Regions from separate parts of the Homo sapiens genome. Here region 1 is linked to region 2. A link means that fine-mapping ties the variant in region 2 to the expression of a gene that starts in the linked region. Tissue or cell type: testis. Region 2 holds a variant in brackets; the other region holds the start of a gene. All regions are shown on one strand. Distances are from middle to middle.

Region 1 (8,101 bases), 770 kb before region 2:
AGTGCCTGCAGACAGGTTAGGGGGAGGAGGGGCAGGACCATCTGCAGGACGCTGCCCCTGCGGGCACATCGCAGAGGCCACCTCTCCAGGACTACTCTCTGACTCGACGGTAACAACACATTACCACGAGGAACGGTGAACTCTGGTGTGGGGGGTGAGATGCAGTTGTCCCTGGATGGGCGGGGGAAGGAGGGGGAGCTGGGGCACTGATGGGGCGAGTGGCTACAGCTAGCTGGGAAGCAGTGAAGCAGATGCCTGGTTAGCTCTCAGAAGCCAGTTCAGAGGCTGAGTCCCCTCCCTCAGCCCTTCCAGACCCTGGGGGCAGGGCTGCCTCACCACACAGGTGTCTTTGCCACCTTCCAGGTGTCCGACACACAGCATGAAGTCTGTCACCTTCTGGACGTGGGCTTTTTTGCACTCATCATTAGGCAGGATTTTGAGGTCCACACACTGGAGATCATCTGGAAATGAGACTACGAACCCGGGAGAAAAAGGGCTGCAGCCCGACCTCACCTGCTTCCCTGGCCCTTTCTCCCTTGGACGCAGGAGTCCCCATCCCCGCCTTGGGCTACACAGTCTGCCCCCACATACAATTCTCTGGTTCGATGCTGCCCCAGCCGGAAGCCAAACAGGTGCTCCCCACTTCGGGTTCCTCGGTGGGCAACTCCACGACCTTCACAGCATCTGTGATGGTATCAGCAGGCTCTGTCAGGCGGAGCAGCATGAGGTCGTGGCTGTAGTCCTCGTCTGCTTGGCGGGTGTGGTTCTCCAGGAGGCTCATGTTGAAGCCAGGGTGTGGGAAGCTCTCACTGACATGAACAAACTGGGCTGTGTTTTCGTCGTCAAACAAGTTGTGGCGACCCAGCCAGAGCTGGTAATTGCTGGGGAAAGATGGGAATGGAGGGATGAGAAGACGGGAAGGGGAAAAGGGGATGGGGCAGGGGAGCATGGGGGAGGGTCCCCAAAGAGAGAAAGGGAAAGAGAAAAATGTGGGTGGGCGGAGACAGAGGAAGAAAGATATAGTTATGGAGAAATACAGACAGCGAATGGGAAGATGAAAGATTTTGAGAGTGCAAAAGGCAAATGAAGAGACAGAGCAAAAAAGAGCTCAAAAGGACAGAGGGGTGAAAAAGGCGGAGGGGAGGGCAGTGAGAAACAGGGTGAGCAAAAAAGAGGCAGATGAGAAGGATAAAAGACAGGGACAGCGAGAAACAGGCCCAGGGAAGAGGGAGGAAGAGGGAACAGAACACGGAAGGGAGCGAGAAGCAGACAAATGAAAAAGGACGCGGGACGTCAGAGTGAGAACTAGAAACAGAGGCAGAGAGGAAGCAGGAGTGACCGAGTGTGGGAGAGAAAAGGGAGGGAGGCCCTGGGGGAGGGTGGGGGCAGGTGGGGAGGGTGGGGGCAGGTAGGGAGGAGGGGAGGCCTGAGAGCGGCTCAGCTGCAGCTGGGGCTGTGGTGCGGGCTCCCCAGGGGCAGGTGGCCTGGCCTGAAGTCCAAGGTCGAGGCCCCCTTCCCTTCCCAGCACCCTCCCGCGCGTTTCTCGCCCCGCCTCCTCCTTCCTCCTCCCTCAGTTGCCCCACCCAGCTCCCGCTGAAACCAGCCCTTCCCTGTGTCTCTCCAGAGTGGAGGGATATCCTGTGGGGCGGGGAGCTGGACAGAGGGAGAGGCGCCCCCTCCCAGGCACACAAGTTGGGGATAAAGCCCTTCCTTTACTCTGGGGCCTCCCTTAGGTCCATCTGGGTGTGTGTTTAGTAGGGATGAGGGAGCGGTGAGGTAGAGACCCAGAGAGAGAGAGATGGGTAGAGAGATGGAGGGTGAGACACAGTGACAGAGATGCCGCAGAGAGACTCAGAGACAGACAGAGACAGGGGAGATGCAGAGACAAGGAGACAGAGGAGAGAGAGGAAGACAGAGACCAGAACACAGTCACACAGAGACACAAGCAGAACCAGATCCCAAGAGACCCAGGCAGCCTTGGAGAGGGGTGTCCAGCCCAGCTCTGCCCTGCCAGGCGACCTGCGCCAGAGCCTTCCTCTCTGCCTCAGCCCCCCAGTCTTGCCTGAGGTTATCCAAGGGGAATGCCACTGGCCTGTCAATCCTGTGGCAGCATAGATGCCCTCCTCCCAGACCCCAGGCCCCTACTCACTCGCTGATGCAATGAGCAGCTGTGAGCACCCACTGGCGGTGCACCAGGATGCCCCCACACTGGAAAGTGCTGAAATGGTACAGAGCCGCCTGCCAGGGCTGGGAATGCTGCTCACACTCCCAGCCTCCCACAATCCGGGACTGAATCGGGGGCGCAGCACCTGCAGAGGCGGTGCTGGGTCAGGAAGGGCAGGGTTGGCAGGAGAGGCCAGGGACAAGGCTAGGAGAGGGAGCTGGGCTGTGGGTCTGAAGGGACATTGCGGGTAGAGGACCAGGGCTGGAGGTTGGGGACATGGGCAAGGGGTGTTGGGAAGGGGTGGGACTCTGGACTGTTCCCTGGGCTTTTGGAGTGGTGGCTGGACCTGGTGGGGAGATTTTGTGCTCTGACAGTAGAGCAGCCTCCAGGGATCAGGGTAGGAGACAGGAGACAGTGTCTGGAGCAGACACTGCATCTGGGCGTCAGGTCATTTGGGGTCTGGGGCTGGGGGATGGGAGGTGGTGGGTTAGGGGAGTGGAAAGGGATTCTGGAAACCAGGGATCAAGGCGCCAAGGGTGGGACAGGATCAGAGGCTCACTGAGGAAGAATCTGGAGGGCTAAGGGGCTCCTAGGCTAGGGAAACAGGACCTGGGTTGGGCTTTTGAGGTTCAGGAAAGGATGCAGCTTTAGGGAACCAGGTCTGAGAGGTAAAGAAGAGCATCTGGACTGAAGAGTTTGGGGGTGACTTGGGGTCCCTACATTGGGGTTGGAAGGGGCCAGCTTGGCTGGGACAGTTAGATTTCAGGGCTTCCTGGTTAAAGGGTAAAAGAAAGGGCTATGGTTAAGGCTAGAGGTGGGCTTCCGAGAGGTTTTGGGGTCCTTCCTGTGAACCAGGAATGGCAATCTGAGGGGAGGTTGGGGCCCTGAGAACACAGTTGCGGTCAGGACTGGGACGGGGCTCAGGAGGAGGGAGGCGTGAGTGGCAGTCCTTCTCGGACAGGGTGAAGGATGGGATCTTCGTTTCTCATGGGGATGGGGTTCATGGTCTGAGGGTACTGGAAGGATATGGGGTCCTCTTGGAGGCAATCCTAGGAAGAGGATTGGAGAAGTGGTGAGAACAGGCGCCAAGCAGCTGTGGGAATGCAATGCAGGACCCACTTGACGTGAGGTTGTAGAATCACATACTGACTTGGGGGAGGCCAGGGCAGAAGCGCTGGCTGAGAAGGCATTCAGGATCCTTGGGGTGGGGTTCCAGAAAACCAGAGCTGTGTAGGAACAATTCAGGCAGAGAAGGGCTGGGGCCTGGGGCGGGATGGAACTTCCCCAAGGAAAGGAGCATGTGGTGGGAGGGTGTGGTGTTTTTCCTGGGAGAGCTGGGGGTGCTGGGTGGGAAGGGACATTTGCAGACCCCCCCCCATACCAGATGGGGGATCCCACATGCCAGTTTGGGAAGCAGGGTTTTCTGGTGAAATTTGGGGGACCCTGGAAGGACTGGGGAGACCAGATGTCAGGGTCTGGAGGACACAGTTGAGAGCGGACAGCTGGATGGAAAAAGTCACTGGAGTGTGGTGGGATTTGTAGACTCAGGAGCCAAATAGGTGGCCGCAGGGAACTAGGGGGCAGGAGGGGATGATCAGAGTCCTGTGGGGTGGGGGAAGCCCATGGGAGGGTTGGGGTCCTCCAGAGAGAGACAGAGATGGCCCAGAATCTGCCCCTTTGGTAAAGCGGTGGGACAGGGCGTTGGCTAGGGAAGAGGAGAAAGTACTGAGGCTTCCTGGGAGGAGCAGGAATCTGGTGTGGGAGTGAGCACTATGACAACATGGAGGAGCGGGGGTGGAAGTTTAGGGTGGGGCCGCGCAAGATAGATAAGAGCCGGGGCACCCCGGACTAGGATAGACTGTGGGCCAGAGGGATGAGGGTGGGGTGTTGGAGGGGAAGGTCTTATCGGGGGGGGATGTGAGGCCAGCAAGAGAATCAGGGCCCGTTCCCCCTCCCACATCCCCCCACTGTCTCACCAGTCCCCCCCAGGGACAGGGCGAGGCACAGAACCAGGAACCACATGGTGACAGAGGTGTCCAGGGGCCAGCAGGTGGAGGAACTGGGGAACCTCCCTGGGGAGGCTTTTAAAAGCCCTTATCCCCTCAGAGCCCCACCCCTGCCCTGCTGGCACCCAGATGTTGGCCAAGGCCCTTCCCCTGTTGCCTGGGGGCTGGACAATTGCCCCCCCCCCCTCCGATCCCCAGAGCTGTAGACGGGGAGGGAGAACCAGCACCTGTTCTGCAGGCCCTGGATCACGCTGGACGCATTCCTGGGGTTGAAGCCAGGTGGGGCAGGGCCTGTGGCTCTGGGGCTTTGCTCTGGGGAGCAGCCAGTGAGGCAAGGGGGGACTGAGGGGAAGCAGAAACAGGAAGACGGAGGAATCAGTGACCCCTGGTACAAAGCCCCATATACCTCAGTCTCAATTAAGGCCCTGCACCCCCAGACCTGGTGCCCTCAAACACCAGCAGTTAGGGCTCTGATTCCCTGCACCACTCGGAGCCAAGATACTAGCATCTCAGCTGCCAGTTCCCCCTGAAATATAAGCCTTGGCCTTCAGAATGCCCTGGTTCTTGCACTCCCAGACCCAGGACCTAGGTCCCCAAAGCTACTGTTCCTTTCATAATAAAATTTTGGGGTACACATCACCACATTCCTAGTGCCTCCAGATCCAGGAATGTGAAGTTTCAGGGGTCTCCCAGGGTAAGTTCTTTAGCATTACAAAATCCAGTGTCCCTCCCAAACAATGCTGGGGTCTCAATGAGCCTCCCACTTCTTGCTCCCAGTTATGGGTGCTCAACGTCCTGTCCTCCAAAGTCCCAGAGATCTGGACAACCTTCCCTCCCAGGTCAAGATCAGGCTAACCACAGATTCCAATGACCCTTCCCCCCCACCACCAGTACAATATTTAGGTCTCACGAGCCAGGTTCATGTACTTCAACATTCAGCGACCTTGAACATCACATTTTGTGGTCTCTGAAGATAATTAGGAACTAGATTCCTGCAGCCTCAATGGTAAACCCATAGGCTTCCAACAGGTTGTCTTGGCTTTTTGGTAAAATCAAAGCAGCTCAGAGTTCCAGCCTCTGCTGTATATCAGGGACCTGGCTAAGGAAAGGACAGTATTTGCCTTTTTGCCATGGCTACCAGGAAGCCCAGAACTAAATCTTTTTTTTTTTTTTTTTTTTTCTGAGATGGAGTCTTGCTCTGTCACCAGGCTGGAGTGCAGTGGCGCGATCTCGGCTCACTGCAACTCCTGCCTCCTAAGTTCAAGCGATCCTCCCACATCACCCTCCCAAGTAGCTAGGATTACAGTCGTGTGCCACCACGCCCGGCTAAATTTTTTTAGTATTTTTAGTAGAGATGGGGTTTCACCATGTTGGCCAGGCTGGTCTTGCACTCCTGACCTCAAGTGAGCCGCCCGCCTTGGCCTCCCAAAGTGCTGGGATTACAGGTGTGAGCCACCATGCCCGGCCCAGAACTAAACCTTAAAGAAAAAGCCATTCTTGGTAATCTAGTGTCTGTTAGGTCCTTTAACTGGGATCCAGAGATAGAGGGTATTTACTCAGTGCCAGACACGATTTTAATCAGTTCAGACGAATCATCTCATTTAATCCTCACAACAGCCCTTTGAAGTCAGCAATAAGATGGTCTCATTTTACAGATAAGGAAACCAAGGCGAAGTGAGATTGGGCCTCTTGTTCAAGATCACACGGGTGGTCATGTGTGTTGAATGAATGGAGCCCTGCTTCAAGCCGCTTCTCCTCACCTAGGGATCGGGGTGGTGGGTGAAAAGGAACAGTGTACAGTGTCTCGGGGTTTCTCTTTGACCCCAGAAAAAAGTCACAGAAATTCCTACAGAGCAACTTGGATCAGCGCTTTGTTATCTTGGCATTAAACAGGTGACCTTGAGCGCCAGCTTTGTCCTCAGGTGGGACAAGTCCTTGGCTAACATCTGGGCCTTGGACAGGGTCTTGGGGGATGGCTCCGTTCTGTTCCATGTCAGGCGGGGCTGCTGGCCAGCTGTGGGGGCTTCTGCTCAGTCAGGGGCACAGGAGATAGGCTAGAATAGTCAGTTCCTCTTCATGGTTTCCCTGATCCACTCCAAGTAGTGGCAGACTTTGGTATAGACACCAGGCTTGGTGGTGTTGTCACAAGGGACGTCACCCCAGGACACAATGCCCTGCAGGATGCCCCCACAGACCAGGGGTCCCCCAGAGTCACCCTGTGGGGAAAAGAGGGGGTCTCAGGTTGAGTGAAACCTCCTGGATTCATCCTCATCCTAATCACCATTTGCAATCTCACCCCAAACCCAATCCATCCCCATCCCAGGGAACCCCAACCCAACTCAACTCAATACAGCCCAGTTTATCCCAAACAGAGCCAACCCAACCCCAACCCCAACCCCAATTCAACACAGCTCAATACAACTCACCCAACCTATATCCAATCTCACCCCCATGCAACTCCAGTGCAACTGTACTAAGTTAAATCCAACTCAGCCCACATCCTCACCATTCAAAATCAAATCAAACCCATGCCCATCTCAAAATCCAATCTCAATCTTCATGTCTTCTGCATTCCAAACAAAATCTACCTCATCCCAATTCAACCCTGACGTATTTCCCACCCAGAATCAAACCAAACCATTCCCATTCTCAACCCCAACCCATGCCATCTCAAACTAACTATCACATTATCCACCTCAAACAACGCAATCCCCACCTATAACCCCAACTCCAACCTCACCCCTATTCTAACTTCTCTTCCTACTCCATCTCCAAGCCTAACCCTAGCATCTTCTCTGGCCCAAAGCAAAGAAAATCCAACCCCATCCGGACTCCCACACCTGTCCCCATCCCTCTTCTTCCGCCTGATGGCCCCTCTAGGCTCTGACCTCACAGGATTCTGCGCCTCTGCCCTCCGCGCCTGCACACACCATGGTGTTTGTCAGGCGCCCTGGGTAGCTCTTGTCACAAGATGTGTCCGAGATAATGCTGATGTTGGCACAATGCAACGTATCTGGGAGACTCACTGGGGAAGACAGTGGACTTGGAGCAGATCCATAAATTCCGGCCCTTGTCCCCTCCGCCCAAGAGCCCTGGAGCATAGGATTCCTTGAGGCCTCGCATCCAGCTCCATCCTTTCACGCACCTTGTGACCGGGGGCTCCCAGCGGTCCCAGGCTCGTTGTGGGACACCAGGCCCCAGCCAGACACCACACAGGCCTCCCCCGGGTGGGGGCAACGCGTGGGTAGCACCGCGGGGCGCACCTGGGGGTTCAGGCGTGCGGGCTGGACTAGGCGCAGCAACATGATGTCGTTGCGGTGGCTGCGCGCTTCGTAGCGCGGGTGTGGAATGACCCGAGACGTGGTCCGTAGTTGCTCTGGGCCATCGCGCTTGCGCAGGTTGTGCTCTCCCAGGCGCACTCTCATGAAGCTGTGCGGGCGAGTGGTTTTCCCGCCAGTGGAGTGCGGGCCAGTGGTTACCCGCAAGTAGAGGACAGAAAGATCAAAGAGTGGGCAACCCGAGGTCTCCCGACCCTTTAGAAATCTCGACATCCCATTACCTTTTCCCAAGACCCTGAAGCCAATGGTTCCAGCCCCTGCTCCTCAAGGACCAACGAGTCTGAAGTCAGGCACACTCCTAGAACTCGATCCCCTCCAACTACTCCCAGCCCCCTCCTGGTCTGTCCCCGAATCCAGGATTCTCACATCCCTAGAACTGAGGCTCAAAAGCTGGAACTAGTCTTCTCCTTCCTCCTTCAGAGATCGAAGGCTTTGAAACACACACTCCTTCCTAACCCAGGGGCTTGACATCCGGCCTCCTCGTCTTTCAGAACCCAGGAGTTCTGGCGTCTGCCTCCGTCTTCCCCCAAATCTAGGAGCTCTTCCCCCCGAACCAGGCTCCCTCAGGACCCTGAGCCCCTGCCTTCATACCG
Region 2 (8,101 bases):
CAATTACATAACCATTATGTGCTTCCTTTTCTTTGTAAAACAGGAACACCCATCATCGCTACCTCCTGAGGTTATTATGCAGATTAAATGAGTATGTGTGCACCATGTAGGCCACTGCCTGGCACATGCTAAGTGCTATGTAGATAAATGCTCATCATGTAATAAGGGCTCTGTGTTTCTGCTCATTGTCAGCATCATTAGCAGCATTATTACATGACTCAGCAATTTCCTTGTGTTCTGTGTCAATCAGCTTCATGCAGTTTCTCCTCTTTCTTGTTCATTGTGTCTATTTCATCTTCTCTTTCTCCTTTTAGAAAGGGAGTTTGGGCTTGAAATCCCACAAAAGGAGATTTCTAAGAAAGCTTCATTTCAAAAGGATATGGTAGGTGAGTTCACAAGAGATGGTTCATGGTGTTCCATTTTAGAAGAACTGAGGCTGGATGCTGACCGCACAAAGAAAGATGAGCAAAATCAAATTCAACCCATGAGTCACAGTGCTTTCTTCAACAAGAAAACATTGAACACAGAAAGCAATTGTGAATATAAGGACCCTGGGAAAATGATTCGCACGAGGCCCCACCTTGCTTCTTCACAGAAACAACCTCAGAAATGTTGCTTATTTACAGAAAGTTTGAAGCTGAACCTAGAAGTGAACGGTCAGAATGAAAGCAATGACACAGAACAGCTTGATGACGTTGTTGGGTCTGGTCAGCTATTCAGCCATAGCTCTTCTGATGCCTGCAGCAAGAATATTCATACAGGAGAGACATTTTGCAAAGGTAACCAGTGTAGAAAAGTCTGTGGCCATAAACAGTCACTCAAGCAACATCAAATTCATACTCAGAAGAAACCAGATGGATGTTCTGAATGTGGGGGGAGCTTCACCCAGAAGTCACACCTCTTTGCCCAACAGAGAATTCATAGTGTAGGAAACCTCCATGAATGTGGCAAATGTGGAAAAGCCTTCATGCCACAACTAAAACTCAGTGTATATCTGACAGATCATACAGGTGATATACCCTGTATATGCAAGGAATGTGGGAAGGTCTTTATTCAGAGATCAGAATTGCTTACGCACCAGAAAACACACACTAGAAAGAAGCCCTATAAATGCCATGACTGTGGAAAAGCCTTTTTCCAGATGTTATCTCTCTTCAGACATCAGAGAACTCACAGTAGAGAAAAACTCTATGAATGCAGTGAATGTGGCAAAGGCTTCTCCCAAAACTCAACCCTCATTATACATCAGAAAATTCATACTGGTGAGAGACAGTATGCATGCAGTGAATGTGGGAAAGCCTTTACCCAGAAGTCAACACTCAGCTTGCACCAGAGAATCCACTCAGGGCAGAAGTCCTATGTGTGTATCGAATGCGGGCAGGCCTTCATCCAGAAGGCACACCTGATTGTCCATCAAAGAAGCCACACAGGAGAAAAACCTTATCAGTGCCACAACTGTGGGAAATCCTTCATTTCCAAGTCACAGCTTGATATACATCATCGAATTCATACAGGGGAGAAACCTTATGAATGCAGTGACTGTGGAAAAACCTTCACCCAAAAGTCACACCTGAATATACACCAGAAAATTCATACTGGAGAAAGACACCATGTATGCAGTGAATGCGGGAAAGCCTTCAACCAGAAGTCAATACTCAGCATGCATCAGAGAATTCACACCGGAGAGAAGCCTTACAAATGCAGTGAATGTGGGAAAGCCTTCACTTCTAAGTCTCAATTCAAAGAGCATCAGCGAATTCACACGGGTGAGAAACCCTATGTGTGCACTGAATGTGGGAAGGCCTTCAACGGCAGGTCAAATTTCCATAAACATCAAATAACTCACACTAGAGAGAGGCCTTTTGTCTGTTACAAATGTGGGAAGGCTTTTGTCCAGAAATCAGAGTTGATTACCCATCAAAGAACTCACATGGGAGAGAAACCCTATGAATGCCTTGACTGTGGGAAATCGTTCAGTAAGAAACCACAACTCAAGGTGCATCAGCGAATTCACACGGGAGAAAGACCTTATGTGTGTTCTGAATGTGGAAAGGCCTTCAACAACAGGTCAAACTTCAATAAACACCAAACAACTCATACCAGAGACAAATCTTACAAATGCAGTTATTCTGTGAAAGGCTTTACCAAGCAATGAATTCCTAGTGCATCAGCATATTCATAAATGAAATATACTCCGAGTTTCTTGAAGAAGAGAAAATCTTCTCAGAATCAGGTCTAATTATATGTTATTGAATTCATGCTTCAGAAAAACTCTAGGGATGCACTGCATGTGTGAACACATGATAAAAAAGTCATGCTTTATTTTAGTGAGGGCAATTACAGAGAAAAGAGTAAGCAGAAATGTCCTTCTGAGTACTGGCCTCATTAAGGATTATAAATTTTCTCCCCGGGAAGAAACCCTGACTAACGCATTGAGAAAAGCCTTTCTGTAAAGAATGGTACAAGACAGGTTGTTACTCGATTATTTATAGTAAAATATGTGGGAAATTATATCAATGATAACCCTGTTTATTGTGGGATATCAATATTTTTAAAGTGCCAACACAGTCATGATAGGACAATATTTTATGTGTGTGTGTGCGCCTTATGTATATAAGCATATATATAATATATAAGCATATTATTATATACAGGTTGAGTATCCCTTCTCCAAAATGCCTGGGATCAGAAGCATTTTGGATTTCAGATACTTACAGATTTTGGAATATTTGCATTATATTTATTGGTTGAGCATCCCTAATCTGAAAATCCAAGATTAAATGCTCCAATTAGCATTTCCTTTGAGCGTCATGTTAGAGTTCAAAAAGTTTCAGATTTTGGGTTTTCAGATTAGGAATACCCAACCTGTATGTACGTATATTTCTGTATCTATGTATGTATATATATGCATATGCAGACATATGTATATGGTCTGGTCAGCATATGTGTATGTATGCGTATGTATGTATGTATGTATGCCCTCAGTGCAGTGGGGTTTGCTGCAGAATTCACTGCATAGCAGGAGATGTAAGCAGATGAGTTATTTTTTAAGAGAATCTAATCTAATTGTTTTTATAAAAATTATTCCCTATTGAATATTTATATAATGAGGTTGTATCAACAATGATTAACTCCTTTATTATACATACACATGAATGTGCATTTTTGGTAAATGCATAAATGAGATTCTATAATGTTTACTGATCTTTATATTACAGATTTTCTCTTCTTTTAGGATTAGCTCAGCTTGCCCCCCCTTTCCATCTCCACCATCTATAGTGAGCCTCTCCATAATTAGTGCCAACCATTAGTCTCGTTCATATTTTTACACCAGGAGTCAACAAACTGTGGCCATTGGCCAAATATGGCCTCCCAACTGTTTTTTTAAAATAAAGTTTTATTGGAACACAGCCATGTTCATTTGGACATGTATTGTCTGGGCTTCTTTTGTGCTGCACTGGCAGAATTGAGTAGTTTTGGCGGAGATCAAATAGCCCCCAAGCTGGAAACTGAAAATATCTACTCTCTGGCTCTTTACAGAAAATGTTTGCCAGCACATGATACACACACAAACACACACACATACACACATATTACTATGTTCATCATCATATACCTGTGTAAGTACTCTTTCATTGATTTATAAAACTCAGATCTCTTACGTGTGTGGATGGTATTTTTTTCATTCTACAATCCATGATGGATTGTACACACGTGTATTCTATGAGGTTGACCTGCCATAATTTATTTAGCCATTCCCACAGTTTTGATTACTTATTTCCTCCCCACACACATTTTTTGCTAAAAAACGGAGAGGGAACTGTTATCAATACTTCCGAGAAGCAGACCAGCATAATCTTTTAAGTGCACAGGCCCAGGAGCCAGGTTCCTGCATTTGATTCCTGGCTCCACTCTCTACCCTCTGCATCTGCTGAGCAAGTTATTTGGTCTCATCTATTCTGGTTTTCTCATCTACAAAAGGGAGATGATGATAGTACCCTACCCCCATGCATTTGGTGTGAGAAGTGTGTGTGTGTTAAACCCTTGGAACTGCATGGACAGACCAAGTGCTGATGAATTTTAGCGGGCCTCGTATCCCTGAGCCTGCCTGGTTCCCTTGTGCTGGGTGTGGGACTGTGGTGGGAGATTTCTGTCAGCTGGAAGTCTTTTCCAGAAGGGTGTTAGAGATGGGCACCCATGGCTTTAGTCTCCATACCCCTTCAAGGTTGATAGGGGCCCACACAGCTGGTCAGGAACCAGCACAGACCTCAGGCTGTGTCTAAAACAAGGTGACTGCACATGCAGGAGCCTGTGCTGGGCCCTGGAGAGCAAATCTGTTCTGTGTCTCACTGGCCTCTCCCTGTCCAGGGGCGTAGTATCAGTGACCATGTCCCACCTCCTGAGAAAGGTGGAAGAGTCTCACCTGGGGAGTCCAGGTACAAGGGCTGGCCGGCCGTAGATGACTGGTGTGGGGTGGAAAGGCTGCAGAGGCCTCTCCATGGTGGTGAGGGGTGGAAATAGTGTGCACCTGGGTCCTGGGAGTGGCACCCTGACCAGTTTCAGGGAGGAAGGTGGCAGGGCCCTAGGACAAGTGTGTTAAAAACTTGAGCCCACAGTGTAGACACACTGGTTCCAAAGACCCCTCAGGATGTGCCTCCCTTCTCAGATCTGGGCTTTCCCTGTTCCTAAGCATCACCTGGGGGGATCACTCTGGGTCCTCATCTCCAGCCACATGTTCACTCCTCACGTGGGCCTCCCTAACTGTCCCCCTCAGGGCAAGCCCTTCCTCCCCACTTCCAGAAAGCTGCTCGTTCCCTGGCCATCCCACACCTCTGACCTCGTGCCACTTCCGGGGCCTGTTGGCTTTAACAACTTAGTTTCCTCCCTACCTCGCAACCCCCTCTGTCTAGAGTGCTCACCTCCCTCCCAGCCTCTGTCTCATACTATTTT[T/C]TCTTTCCTCTCAGTACCAAGCGCTGGGACAAGCCAGTCTGTACTCAATGCCTGTGGGATAATAGACGGAGGAATCTGGAGTTTGGTTGGGTGATTAGCTTTGGAATTGATGGGTCCCAGGGAGCTATCTAAAGTTTTCAGTCACATGAGGGCATGCTCACAGATCTGTGAAAAGATCTGTTGGCTCAGAGAACTAAGAGATGAATAAATGTTAGTCCAATGGCCTCATCATGAGATGAGAGGTCAAGAGTTTTGAGTTTCCAGAGGGAGAAGCTACTATTCTAGGCAGCTTGTATGAACTAACTCGTTTATTCCTCACAGCCATTGTAGGAAATAATCTAACCTCATAAACCCCATTTTAGAGATGAGGAAACAGGCTTAGAGAATTTGACGTAAACTCAAGACCGAAAATCTAGGAACAAGAAAAGCCTGGATTTGAACCAAGCTATCTGATGCCAGTGTTTTAACTCTCAACCATTGTACTACTTTACCTCCTCATGACCTTTTTTTTTTTTTTCTTGTGAGATGGAGTCTCGCTCTGTCGCCCAGGCTCTGGAGTGCAGTGGCACGATCTCAGCTCACTGCAAGCTCCGCCTCCCGGGTTCACGCCATTCTCCTGCCTCAGCCTCCCGAGTAGCTGGGACTACAGGCGCCCACCACCATGCCTGGCTAATTTTTTGTATTTTTAGTAGAGACGGGGTTTCACCGTGTTGGCCAGGATGGTCTCGATCTCCTGACCTCGTGATCCCCCCCCCTCGGCCTCCCAAAGTGCCCATGACCTTTTTATTGTTGGGCAGTGAAAGCCATGGTGAAATGAAGAATGTCCTACTGTCATGTGATGTGATCAGAAAACATACTGCCCAGAGTCCCCTGCCCCCACCCCCAAAACCAGTACTTGATCCATCCTTTGACTGTTGTGGCGATTGGCACAAAGGTTGGGCACAGTAGTAGTTAGGCTCATGGGCTCTGGAGCCAACCTACCTGGATGCTACACATCCCAGCTCTGCCCCTCGCTAGTTTGGTGGCAAGCAACTTAACCTCTCTGCCTTAATTTCTCCAGCAGCACAATGGGAATAATAATAGATCTCGCCTTGTGGCTCCTTTGCAGATTACATGCGTTAATTATGTAAAGTCAAGCATTAGAATGGTGGCTGTCCACCATGAGTACAACACAAATGCTCGTTCTTAATGATTCAACAAACATGGAATTTCATTAAATCTGAAATAAAGGTATTTTGAGAAATTGAATTCCGTTATCAAGTGTGAAGTCCTGATCCAGACTCACCTCGTGCACACTATTTACCACAAAGGTGGACTCCCTATTTTAAATGCATTCACTTAAAGAGACCTTTCCCTGTACTAATTAGTGTTTGTTAAGAAGGACCTTCTGGACATAGTTGAAAGAAAGAGAAAAGAAGCAGGTGTGGGGAGGAGGAGAAGGAGAAGGGAGGAAGGGAGGGAGGGGAAAGAAGATGGATGGACAGATGGAAGGAAGGAATTAGGGATGGCAGAAAGGAGATAAAATAAACTCTACTTTTAAAAGAAACCAGGTGGGGTGAGTGGGAGGGCTTCCCTGTGACCTTGGCCTCAGGGGCTCTTTCTGGCTTCCAGATAAGATACCCCTCAGCTTTGCACTGGGTCTCCTGAGGCTTGGAAGTTATGTCCACAGTGAGGTTGGTGTAGAGGGGCAGCCACTCTTTGGAGAGCAACCTGTAGCCCAGACAGTTGATGCCATCATCAGAGGATCCAGGGATCGGAGGATTGGCGGATCCGGGACAGAAGGCGAGGCCTGGAGGATGGGGAGGGGCAGCCATGTGAGCCTCAGGGAGGACCCAGAACCAACCACCCCACTTCCAACACTGATTCACCTCCAGGGCCTCTGCTTGTGGCCAGGATCTTCCCCCTCCAGCATATGGTAGCCTCTGAAAAGCAGGTGGGGCTGGGAGAGGAGCATCCCGCTTAGTTTCACCCTTCCAGAGACACAGGAAGGCATGGAGGCCAAACACCTGTCTCTGACAGGGTCCCCATGCCACAGCCCAGCCCTCCAGTCCAGGGTAGCCCATGTCCCCCTCAGCCCAGGGCGGCCCATACCTGCCTCATCATGTCAGGACCTGCAGCTCCTGCCTCCCACCTGGCAGTGATGTCATCCTCATCATCCCAACCCCACTACACGTTGGAGAAGCCATTTATCTTCAGGTAGTGAGTGGGGTGCAGGGCAAACACCCCTCCAAGGCACAAGCTAACGGCTTAATTGCTGTTGTTTCCCCATGTTCTGGCTTGCAGCACTTGTAACCTCTGGGCTCCTGCAGCCCTTAACATCTGATACCTTTACATTAAGATTTATCATCCTTATCTCTGGACCAGGCTGAATACACCTGTGTCCCGGTGCATCTGGCCAGCGGGTCAAAGGGCCTAGCACACAGATTAACAAATGAATGAGTTCCAGTTACCAAAGTTCAATCCTTGAGGTGGACAGAAGACGCCCAAGGCGTGTCTCCCATCACCCTTCACTCTCAATCCTCCTTATCAAGGGCCTCACGGGAATAGTGATAAGATCTCAGAATATACAGGAGGGAGCAGTTTCGGGAAGGGGGGCATTGGAAGGAAGTGGAGGGCTTGGATCTGGGGAGCAAGCGGGGAGAGTGCTCCGTTCCTTGGTTTTGGGATCTTGCCTTACGGGTCTCACCTGCCCTCCATCCTGGCTTCCACCTGGCAGGGTGTGTTTGTGTCAGAAAGACGATTGTGCGTAACTGTTCACCGCGTCCACGTCCCGAGAGTTGCGCACGCGTGGAGATCTGCAAAACGCTCCCTTTCAGCTCCGCGCATGCACAGAGACCCCACCCCGCAAGTCCTTGCCCTTCGGCCTGGGCAGGCGTCCACTCCCATGGCTGCAGGGCGCGCCGAAGAGCCCACTCTGCATCCCCGAGACGCGGCCCAATCCTAGGAATGTGCTTAGCGCAGGTGCTATCTTCCCTTTTCACATTCCCAATCTCTTTCTCCGCCCCCTCAAACTCTTGCCATACTCCCACAACAGCAGAAAATCTGAAAAAAAAGTCCATCCCATCTTTGCACTGACAGCAGTGCACAGCAGCTGGCAGAGAATTCTGGCACGGCTATTGTGCTTGCGCAGGCGCAGACGGGAAGCGGGCCG

Evidence for each region. PIP is the estimated chance that this variant, and not a neighbour inherited with it, causes the effect.
Region 1: it holds the start of KLK1, and the variant in region 2 is fine-mapped to the expression of KLK1 in testis (GTEx, PIP 0.91).

Annotation. Positions count from the first base shown.
Region 1 is chr19:50,819,563-50,827,663 of GRCh38, forward strand. KLK1 (kallikrein 1) reads right to left here and starts at 4,225. Exons shown (of 5, transcript NM_002257.4): 1 at 4,141-4,225; 2 at 2,150-2,309; 3 at 592-881; 4 at 337-473. The coding sequence starts at 4,186. It overlaps KLK15 (kallikrein related peptidase 15), which reads right to left. Exons shown (of 6, transcript NM_017509.4): 3 at 8,100-8,101; 4 at 7,316-7,599; 5 at 7,059-7,195; 6 at 5,727-6,386. The coding sequence ends at 6,234. RefSeq lists an enhancer at 174-303 and a silencer at 1,417-1,486.
Region 2 is chr19:51,586,313-51,594,413 of GRCh38, forward strand. It overlaps ZNF175 (zinc finger protein 175), which reads left to right. Exons shown (of 5, transcript NM_007147.4): 5 at 315-6,198. The coding sequence ends at 2,155. LINC01530 (long intergenic non-protein coding RNA 1530) reads right to left here and starts at 8,068. Exons shown (of 2, transcript NR_034159.1): 1 at 7,637-8,068; 2 at 5,471-6,739. RefSeq lists a silencer at 1,380-1,580 and enhancers at 6,512-7,147, 7,148-7,783, 7,784-8,101. The variant T/C (reference allele first, on the strand shown) is at 4,951.